Linked DNA regions of Homo sapiens: region 2 is linked to region 1. Evidence: fine-mapped expression QTL. A gene starts in region 1. The other region holds a variant in brackets. All regions are shown on one strand. Distances are from middle to middle.

Region 1 (4,392 bases):
ATGACTGGGTGATGAGCCACCACGTCTCTCTGAACCCCGATGAGGACATGGATAACATCATCAACTCATCACTGAACCATCGTCATCAACCCAGCTTTAATCCCCAAGACTGATAACCATCGGAGGCTGTTAATTCCCAGCAAATTATCTAATCCACATGTTGTCCGATCTGTGTAAACCCAGCCCATGAGGATCATAAAATAAATAAGCATGAAATGGCTTACAGTTTCGAATCTCCTTTCACCTAGATAGGCCAGGCTGCATGATTGCAGCCACTGTCGTGGCTCCCACCTCCTTCCAAGAGGGAATGGGCAGCATGGGTTCCTATGTGGGCCTGCTTGATGCTGTTTCTAGGAGGCCACACACACACCCCTGCCTGTCCCTCCTGCTCTCCCTCCCATATCCCAAATGAAGCCAAGGCTTCGTTTCCCTGATATGTTAATCACTGAAATAGCCTTGTCCTGCAAGACACAGGCATGGTGAATTAAGATGCTGGATGATTTGCAAAACGAAAAGCAAGCTCTCCCTTGAAAAACAGGGGGCTGGTAGGAATTTGTAATGATGAGAGGCAGGCAGAGAGGGGAGACAGAAAAGGAGGTCGGCGGCTCTAGGGGATGTAAGGAACGATAAAATTAGACTGCGTTGTCTAGACATAAGCACAGGGTTACCGAGAGGTTTCGCGCGCGCTTGCACGCATGTGTGTGTGTGTGTGTGTGTGTGTGTGTGTGAATAGGACTGAGCAAGGAGTAGGGCCAAATGGCCTCTAAATCCCTTTTTGCCTCTGAAATTCTTCAAGGCTATGTCTAAAAGCCTATAATTCTAAAATTCTGTAATTCATAGATCTGATACTTCTCTAACAGACACTGTGATTCTAAGGTTCTGTGATTCTAAGAGTTTATAATCCAATGAGTCTGTAATTATAAACTGCTATGATTCTCTAATTCTAAACACTATGGTTCTCTAATTCTACCATTCCATGATGCTAATATCCTCCTGTAATTCTAAGATTCTATCATTGTTTCCTTAATTTAATATTCCACCATTCTCAAGTTCTGTGATTGAAAGAGGTCATGATTCTGTATTTCTATAAATTTATTCTTTTATATTTATAATGCTCTATAATTCTAGTATTCTAGAATTCTGATTTCATAATCCTAAAATTCTAGAATTCTAATGTTTTATGCTACTAAAAATCTAAAGCATTTATATGATTTTTTAAATCAAGTTTTCAAGAATTCCCACAATCTAAGATTCTAACATACTGGGTTTCTAAGACCCTACAATACAATTTTTTTTTTTATTCAATGTTCTGTATTTTGAAGATTAAATGTCAAGGAGTCTTAGTTCTGAAACGTTAATATTATATGCTATCATGATTCCAACATGTCTCATATTTTATGATATCATTATTACAAACACAAAGTCATTTTATCTACAAAATGCAGGAATTAAGCTGCAAGTGACAAAGAATCAAGGGACCTCCACAGCTGTCCTCCTAATCAGATTGGAGCACATCCCATGGCCATGGATTCTTCCTCAGTGGCAAAGGAGACCTGAAGACAGCTGCTTTACCCAGCCAGTGCTCCAGGAGCTGCCTGGAAAGACAAAGGCATGGGAGGTGGGGGCCTGGCCAGGGTCAGGCCGAGGAGTTGGCCCCATGCCTCCGGGAGGCCCCTCCTCAAAAGCCAGGTTTCCAAACATCTGCCAGCATTTGGGTCCCGATTGCTGTCCTTTAAAAGTATCCCTCTCCTTTTCTTGTTCCCCATCAAGGGCTCCCATGACAATCATTTCAAGCAGCTAATGAGTTTCAGATGGGCTTTGGGAGCCAGGGACGGATGGACGCTCAGAGAGGAGGGTTCTTAGGCTGAGTTCCGTGGGCAGGGGGAGGGGTGGGGGTCAGATAGGAGAATGTTTTGTAGCTGAAGTATTAGGGGCCGTCCACCCCTCCCAGGCCTGGGGACAGAACCTGGAAAGGAGCTGGAGCCGTGGTTACGCTGCTTGCTCCTTCCCGCTCGCCCGTGTTGGCTCGCTGTCAATATAGAGACCCACACTCCCTTTCTAACGCCTCACACACTGTTTTGAACCTTGATGAAATAAAGACCCAGAAGCATTATAGGAAACATCGAGGCCTTCTTGAGGCCAAGATGTGATTACTCACCTGCTAATAGAAGGGTCTTTGCAAAAGACCGAAATCGTCCTTGTTGAAATTACATCGTCTGTGATTCTCTCCCCTTCCAGATGCACGGGAGTACATCCAGAGGCTGCTGTCAGCTCTCATGTGGGCCACACCGCCTGGCCCGGGGTGGGGTTGCCTGTGGGGCCCCTGGGCCCCCTGGCACCACACGGGGGCAGCTCAGCAATCCTGCCGTTCCCTGTGCCGGGCTGCTCTCTCCCTTTGGCTCGGGGCTCTGAGGGGGCTGACAGTGACCCCAAAGAGCTTTCTCCCTCTTGTGCCAGGGGATGAGGAGAGGCCAGGGGCTCGGGAGAGGCGTCCCAGCCTTCATTTCCGTAGCATTCAGAGAGCCCAGGGAGCAGCCCGTGCCCAGAACCTGGCCAGGATTATAAGTGGGTTCTGCAGCGTTCTCACTCCCTGGCTGCCCGAGAACTTCCGCTGCTTTCAAGGTCTAATTTATGGATTCACTTAAATGAGCAGAACATTGAGAAAGACACACCAATGCATTTCAGAGGAACTCACACACTCCACAACCCAGCGAGGCCATTCCCTACCAGGAATGTAGGAGGAAGTTCTGCAACAGGATGTGTATAGTTTAGGGTTTGGAGGGGGTCTCTCCTGGCAAGAGAGACCAAACCTTATAATTAAGTAACTCTCCGTTTCCTTTAAGATATCAACAACAACAACCACGTTCTCCCCAGTTGCCTAAACAGGACAAGTCCCCGGTTAAGCAGTTCCTGGTGGTCTGTGCTCACACATGTGCAGAGAGAGAAAAAAATCTGCCTGGAAGCTGGCCTCCCTGGCTTCCCAGCAGCGGGCCACCTCCCTGCTTCGCCGCCACCCCCTCCCCCGTTCGCAATTAGGGGTAATCTTTTGTTGCCTGGAAAGTGTAAAAATCGCCGGCTTTTCTTTTTGCATGCATAATATCCATTTCCCCTCCAAGTGCGTTATTTGGTTTGGGAATTACATCTATTTACAAGAGTAGATGTTGCACAAAGGTTGTGTTTATGTGGAAAATTATATCGGTGACACGGGCTGATTGGCATGTGGAGGCTGGGAGAGCAGGCCTTCTCATCAGCTTGGAATAACAAAATGATTGCATTTTCAGCAAAGCTAATTGATCACATACCTCGCTGGGCTATCTGTTTACTCAAAGGCCATCCAGGCCCTGGGAAGGTGGAGAGAAGAGAGCCCGGGGCCCGTGGTCACTGCCAGGCCGAGCCAGCCAAGGGCTAGTGGGGTGTGGTGTAGACACGGGGCCTGGACAGGTCCTCAGGTGGTGAGGTTGGGCAGGGAGATAGGCTGACTCTGTTCTCCCCGGGGAAACCAGGCCCGTACTTCACACTGGTGACCGTGTCCTTTCTCCAGACCCCTGAAGTCAGTATGGGGCAGCGCAGGTGTGGGGAAGGGCTAGTTGGAGTATGATCTGGAGCCACTGAAAAGAAAAGACAAGTAAATTCCCTTCTCTCATCCATTGGAAAAGCAGTGGGCTTTAAGGTGGTGCTGAGCTGGCTGCACAGGGCTCGTGGGAGTGAAAGCTCTGGAAACCTGTCTCCATGTGTCTGTCTTGACTGAGTGACTCTGTCTTTGCTCTTCTCTGGGGAGCTCTAGATCAGGGGCCAGGACTGGGACTAGGAGGATGGATGGGAAAGAGGGACGTTATGGGGTGGGGGATGCTGTTAAGGAGTACATTCAGCTTCCAAATCTGCAGACAGTGAAACCTGAGCCCAACCCTCTCTGACACCCTGCCGGAACAGATCTTGCTCCTGCCTTTGGGGAAGGAGGTGCTTATCTTTAGGTTTGTGATAAAAATTCCTGGCCCTGGGCTGACTGAGCCTGTGCGAGGTCTCCTAAGAAGATATTACCTCCTCTTCATTGACCCACACCAGCCAGGCCTCTTGGACCAAACAGCTGAAGCCACCTAAAAAAAGCCCGGAGTTAGAATTGTATTTCCTCCCCAGGGTTAAAACTTCAGTTATGTGGGGGCAGAAAACAAAACAGTTGGATATAGTTAAGCAAGTACTTGAATTGAAAATGGCCAGTTATTTGAGAAACAACTTGTCCGCAATTCACCAAGAAACATTAATTTACCAGTCACTTTGCAAACATGAAGTTCCTTTGAAAACTACTGGTTTAAAACAATCTGATATCCCTCTCCTATTTTATGAAGATGGCTGGTTATTCTGCAAACTTCCACTTGGAGTTAGTCATGCTACTAG
Region 2 (4,392 bases), 170 kb after region 1:
GACACAGAGCCAAATCATATCAATTACTCTGAAGGAGAATATGACATAGAGCAAAAGGAAGGGGCAGATGAAATGCCCTCAGTGCTCCTAGAAGCAGGTGAGAGGACATCAGAAACGGGGAAGGGATGAAGGAAGGCTTCCTGGAGGAGGTAGTATTGGGGCTGTACCTTCCAAGAGAAGTGTTTCTACAGGCAAAGAACAGGGTGGAACTGCATTCCAGGTAGCATGCAAAACATAAGCAAAGGCCCAGAGTTTGGGTTAAGGTCACTAGTTGGTGTAGCTGAAGTACAGGGGTTTGACTGTATTGGGGTCAATTCCAGAGATTTTATTGAACCCCATGTTAAATGTACCATGGCAACAACTCTCTTCCCCTCAGTTTCACCATCTATAGAATGAGGCCACTGGAGTCAGTAACCCCTGGGCCCCCTAGTCCCTCCAGAATATGTCATTCTGCAGTGCCCAATCTCCCAGGCTCCTAAACACTTCCACATGTCAACCCTGACCTGGCTCCTTATCTTTGCCTATACAACACAGCCGGCCAGCCCTGCTTCCGCTTGGATGGCCTCCCTGTGGTCCTGGAGTGTACCGCTATTCTAGGGCCACCAGCCAGGTGGCCCCCTCTCCAACAGAAACACAACACCCAGGGTGGTGGGTCCTATGGAAACATCAGCCATTTCCCACCATCCTTCCCTTTTCTCCTCAGGCCTCAGCAGAGCCTGCGGAAAACGTGGGTTTATTTGGGGTCTGCGGGATACAGAGAATGTTATCATTCTCAGGGAACTCCAAGTCCTGGTTTCACTGCTTATTCTGGCCCCTCTCCGTGGATGCTGCAGGCCTATCAGGCAAGGAGGTCTCCCTCCTGCTTTCATACCACCCAGGGCTCCCAGTTCCAAGAGAGGTTTTGGGTTTCAGATAAATGAAGCAAATGCCTAAAGGGGTAGGCAACATCTTTAACTCCTGGAGCAGAGGGCTGAGCAAGGCCGAGGGCTCAAGCTGAGTCATTCCCCATCATGTCCCCTGACCCCCACCCTCGCAGATGGCAGGAATTTGCTTTTTCAAACTGCAATCTGAGAATTCTAGAAGCTTATGATCTGTGGATTCAAGGATCTTCAAACTGATGGAATCTTAGGCTGCCAGAACCTTAAAAATTGTTGAATCTTAGACTCCTAGAACCATGAAATTCTAGAATCTTAGGATCAGACCATTGTGTCCAGGAAAGAGATGGATTCCATGGCTTCCTAGCTATGTAACTTTAGGTAAGTGATTCAATATCTCTATGCTTCCATTTTCTCATCTGTAAAATTGGGTAATAATTGTACCTACTTCCTAGAGTTATTATGTGGTTTGAACGAGTGAATATGTATAAAGCACTTACAACACTGCCTGGCACATGGAAAGCACCAGAGACGTGACAGCTGTAGTTCTAAGATCACACAGCAGGGTAACAGCAGAGTTTGTGCTACAGTCCAGGTCCCTGGCTTCCCTGTCCAGAATTTTTCTGCCATTCAGCCATGCCACCTCTCAAGATCATTAGGAAAGGACCAACCTAGGGACCAGATAGATTTTCAATCATGGCCCAGTGGAGACCCTGCTTTGGAAATGTCCATGCAGGAGACAGGTTTCCCATCACTGAGAAATACAATGGGCAGAACCATGTTTCCTCCCAGAACAAAAAACTTTTGGCAGATGGAGTCAGTGAAAGCCTCTTGCACAATTTAGTGCACTCTCTCAGTGGGCTGACTGGGCTCAGCTAGGTGGTTCTTCTGCCCTACATGTAAGCTGAGGCTGCAGTCTTCAGGGGACTCAATTGTGCTGGAATACCCAAGATGACTCACTCATATGTCTGGCACCTTGTTGGGGATGGCTGGAAGGCTTGACTCAGCTGGGATACTAGGGCATCTAGGTCTCTCCCTCCCCAAGTATCTCCCTCCCTCCATC[C/A]CTCCCCTAGCCTCTCCATATGGTTTCTCCAACAGAGTAGCAGGACTTATTATATCGTAGCTCAGGACTCTCAAAAAGGCAAAAAGAGAAATTGCTGTGTCTTAAAGTTTGGGCCTTTGTGATAAGCAGAATTCTAAGTTCTCCCCCAAGAATCCCACCCACAGTGTACACACCTGAAAACATGTACAAAATCTAAAAATATGATGGAAAAGACACTCCTTTGATTAGGTTACATTATATGGTAAAGTGATGGCATAGATTACATTACACCATGTAAGACTCCATTATAATAGACTGGAGAGAAATTCTCCTGCTGGCTTTGAAGAAGTAAGTGCCATGTTGAGAGAGAACCATGCTGCTAGGACCTTAGGTCAGCTTCCAGGAGCTGAGAGAAATTGCCCAGTTAACAGCCAGCAAGAAAATGAGGGCTTCAGTCCTATAGCCACAAAGAATGGAATCCTGCCAGCAACCTAAACAAGCTTGGAAGAGGACTTATGAGCCTCAGATGAGATTGCAGCCCCAGCCAACACCTGGATTTCAGCCTGGTGAGGCCCTGAGCAGAGAACCTAGGTCTCACTATTGGGAGAACAGCACCAAGCCATTCATGAGAGATCCACCCCCATGACCCAAACACCTCCCTGCCTAGGAGTCATCTCCCAACACCACCACATTTGGGATCAAATTTCAATGTGAGTTTTGGAAAGGACAAACCATATCCAAACCATGGCACACAGCAATCCAGAGACCAGGGCTGGAGGCCAGGTGTCTGGACTCTCAGCCTACGACGACTTCCATTCGGCTCTTGTTTTTAGGTTGAGTGAATAAAATCTGTCTCCTCTGTCCCCAAAGGCAAGGCACTCATTTTGTCTTGGCCTTCTGCCTCTCCTGAGCTCCACCCTATCCTGGTTTTTTGGGGATTCTGAGGCTCACTTTTTACTCCCTGGGTCTGACACGTTAAAAAGAGAAATCAGGAGTCTCCAAGAACTAGACCCCAATACACCTTCACCTCCAGAAAAGGACTGACAGGGTGGAGAAACCTCCCACACACAGCCTACCCAAGACCTGGAGGTTTTGTGGACAGGTGTGCACTAGGAGCTGGAGTCCACCCTGGTGCAGATGTGAGACCTGAATCCCTGACCCACTCTGGGACCTTAGTTAAATTACACCCTGTCTCTTTTCCATTCCTCACCAAAAATGAGGAAAATGCCCTAACAGGTGAGATAAACCAAGTGAATGCCCTTTGTAGACCACAAAGGGCTGATTCCTTGAGCAGAGTTCTTCAAAAGAAAACTTTAGCTCCTGCTTACTGATGTATCGTCCCTCTCTCTCCAATTAAGGACCCAAGCCTCCCACCATTTCAGTCCCCTTGTTCATCTCCTTCCCTTTCTCCAGTGGAAATTCCCAGGAATTCCCAGTCCGAGGAATTCCCAGGAATTCTTATTCTTGACCAAATGTCAACTCCTAAGAAAAACCTTCCTGATCTTCTTGTCTAAAATATCATCTTCCTTCCTGCTGTCTTCTCCTGCTCTTTTTTAATAGCACTTATCAGTGTCTGAAATTATATTAGGCACTTGTTTAGTATTAATTTCCCACACTAGATGATAAGATTAGCAAGGACAAGGATCTGTCTGTTATTCACCACCCAAGAATTTGACAGGTAATAGTGCTCAAAAAGTACTCATTGAACAAATGAATGAATGGAATCAAGACTAAGCACAGTGCAAAACTTCAATGCTGGTCCAGACAGGATTGTGTCTTAAGATACCAGCTGGTTCCATGAGGACTATAATGCAAAGGAAGCCTAACCTGAGCAGCCCACCTCACACTGGCCCCCTCTCCTGATTGCACTTAGAGCCTAAACCTTTCACTGGACACTGATTTACAAATTACTGAGAAAGTTCCTAGATTGTTGACATTTAGGAATAAGTAAGCTCTGTAGGTGTGAGCCTGGTTTATTTCTCTCTCCCAAGTTTACTGAGGGCATATTCACCTTTGTTTCCTTCCCCAGAGTGCCTAACAAGTACTATTTGAATGGTTGTACCTCAATGAATTAATAAATAAGTGAATAAGTGGGTGAAAGAGTAAATGGATGAATGAATGGATAAACAGTGGGTGACTGAATAATTACATGGATGGATGATGGATGGATGGATAGAAAAAAGGAGGGAAGGGTGGATATATTGATGGATGGATGGTTGATGAGTGGATAGTGAGTGAATGACTAGATGCGTGATGGAGAGATGGATCGTTACATGATTAGTGGATGATAGAAGAGTAGATGGATGAAGGGATTGATGGATGGATGGGAAGGATGAATAGATGGATAAAAGTATGGGTGGGAGGGGTATGGTTGGGAGGGAAAGGGTTAGGGTGGGCCAGAATAAGTGAGTAGATAGATTTGATTTACTGTGTCTAAATCTCCAAAGTCACAGAACAGAGGAAGTAGATTTGCTC

What was found. PIP is the estimated chance that this variant, and not a neighbour inherited with it, causes the effect. A credible set is the group of variants that fine-mapping cannot tell apart.
Region 2: its variant is the best candidate, but not a certain one, in a credible set for the expression of LINC01738 in tibial nerve (GTEx, PIP 0.71).

The regions. Positions count from the first base shown.
Region 1 is chr1:47,686,349-47,690,740 of GRCh38, reverse strand. It overlaps LINC01738 (long intergenic non-protein coding RNA 1738), which reads right to left and starts at 2,243. Exons shown (of 3, transcript XR_001738040.3): 1 at 2,159-2,243. It overlaps LOC124904174 (a long non-coding RNA gene), which reads left to right. Exons shown (of 2, transcript XR_007066067.1): 2 at 1-220. RefSeq lists enhancers at 2,524-3,212, 3,213-3,901.
Region 2 is chr1:47,511,797-47,516,188 of GRCh38, reverse strand. No RefSeq gene overlaps it. Among named protein-coding and RNA genes, the nearest start is that of FOXD2, 76 kb to the right of the region's middle. The variant C/A (reference allele first, on the strand shown) is at 1,939.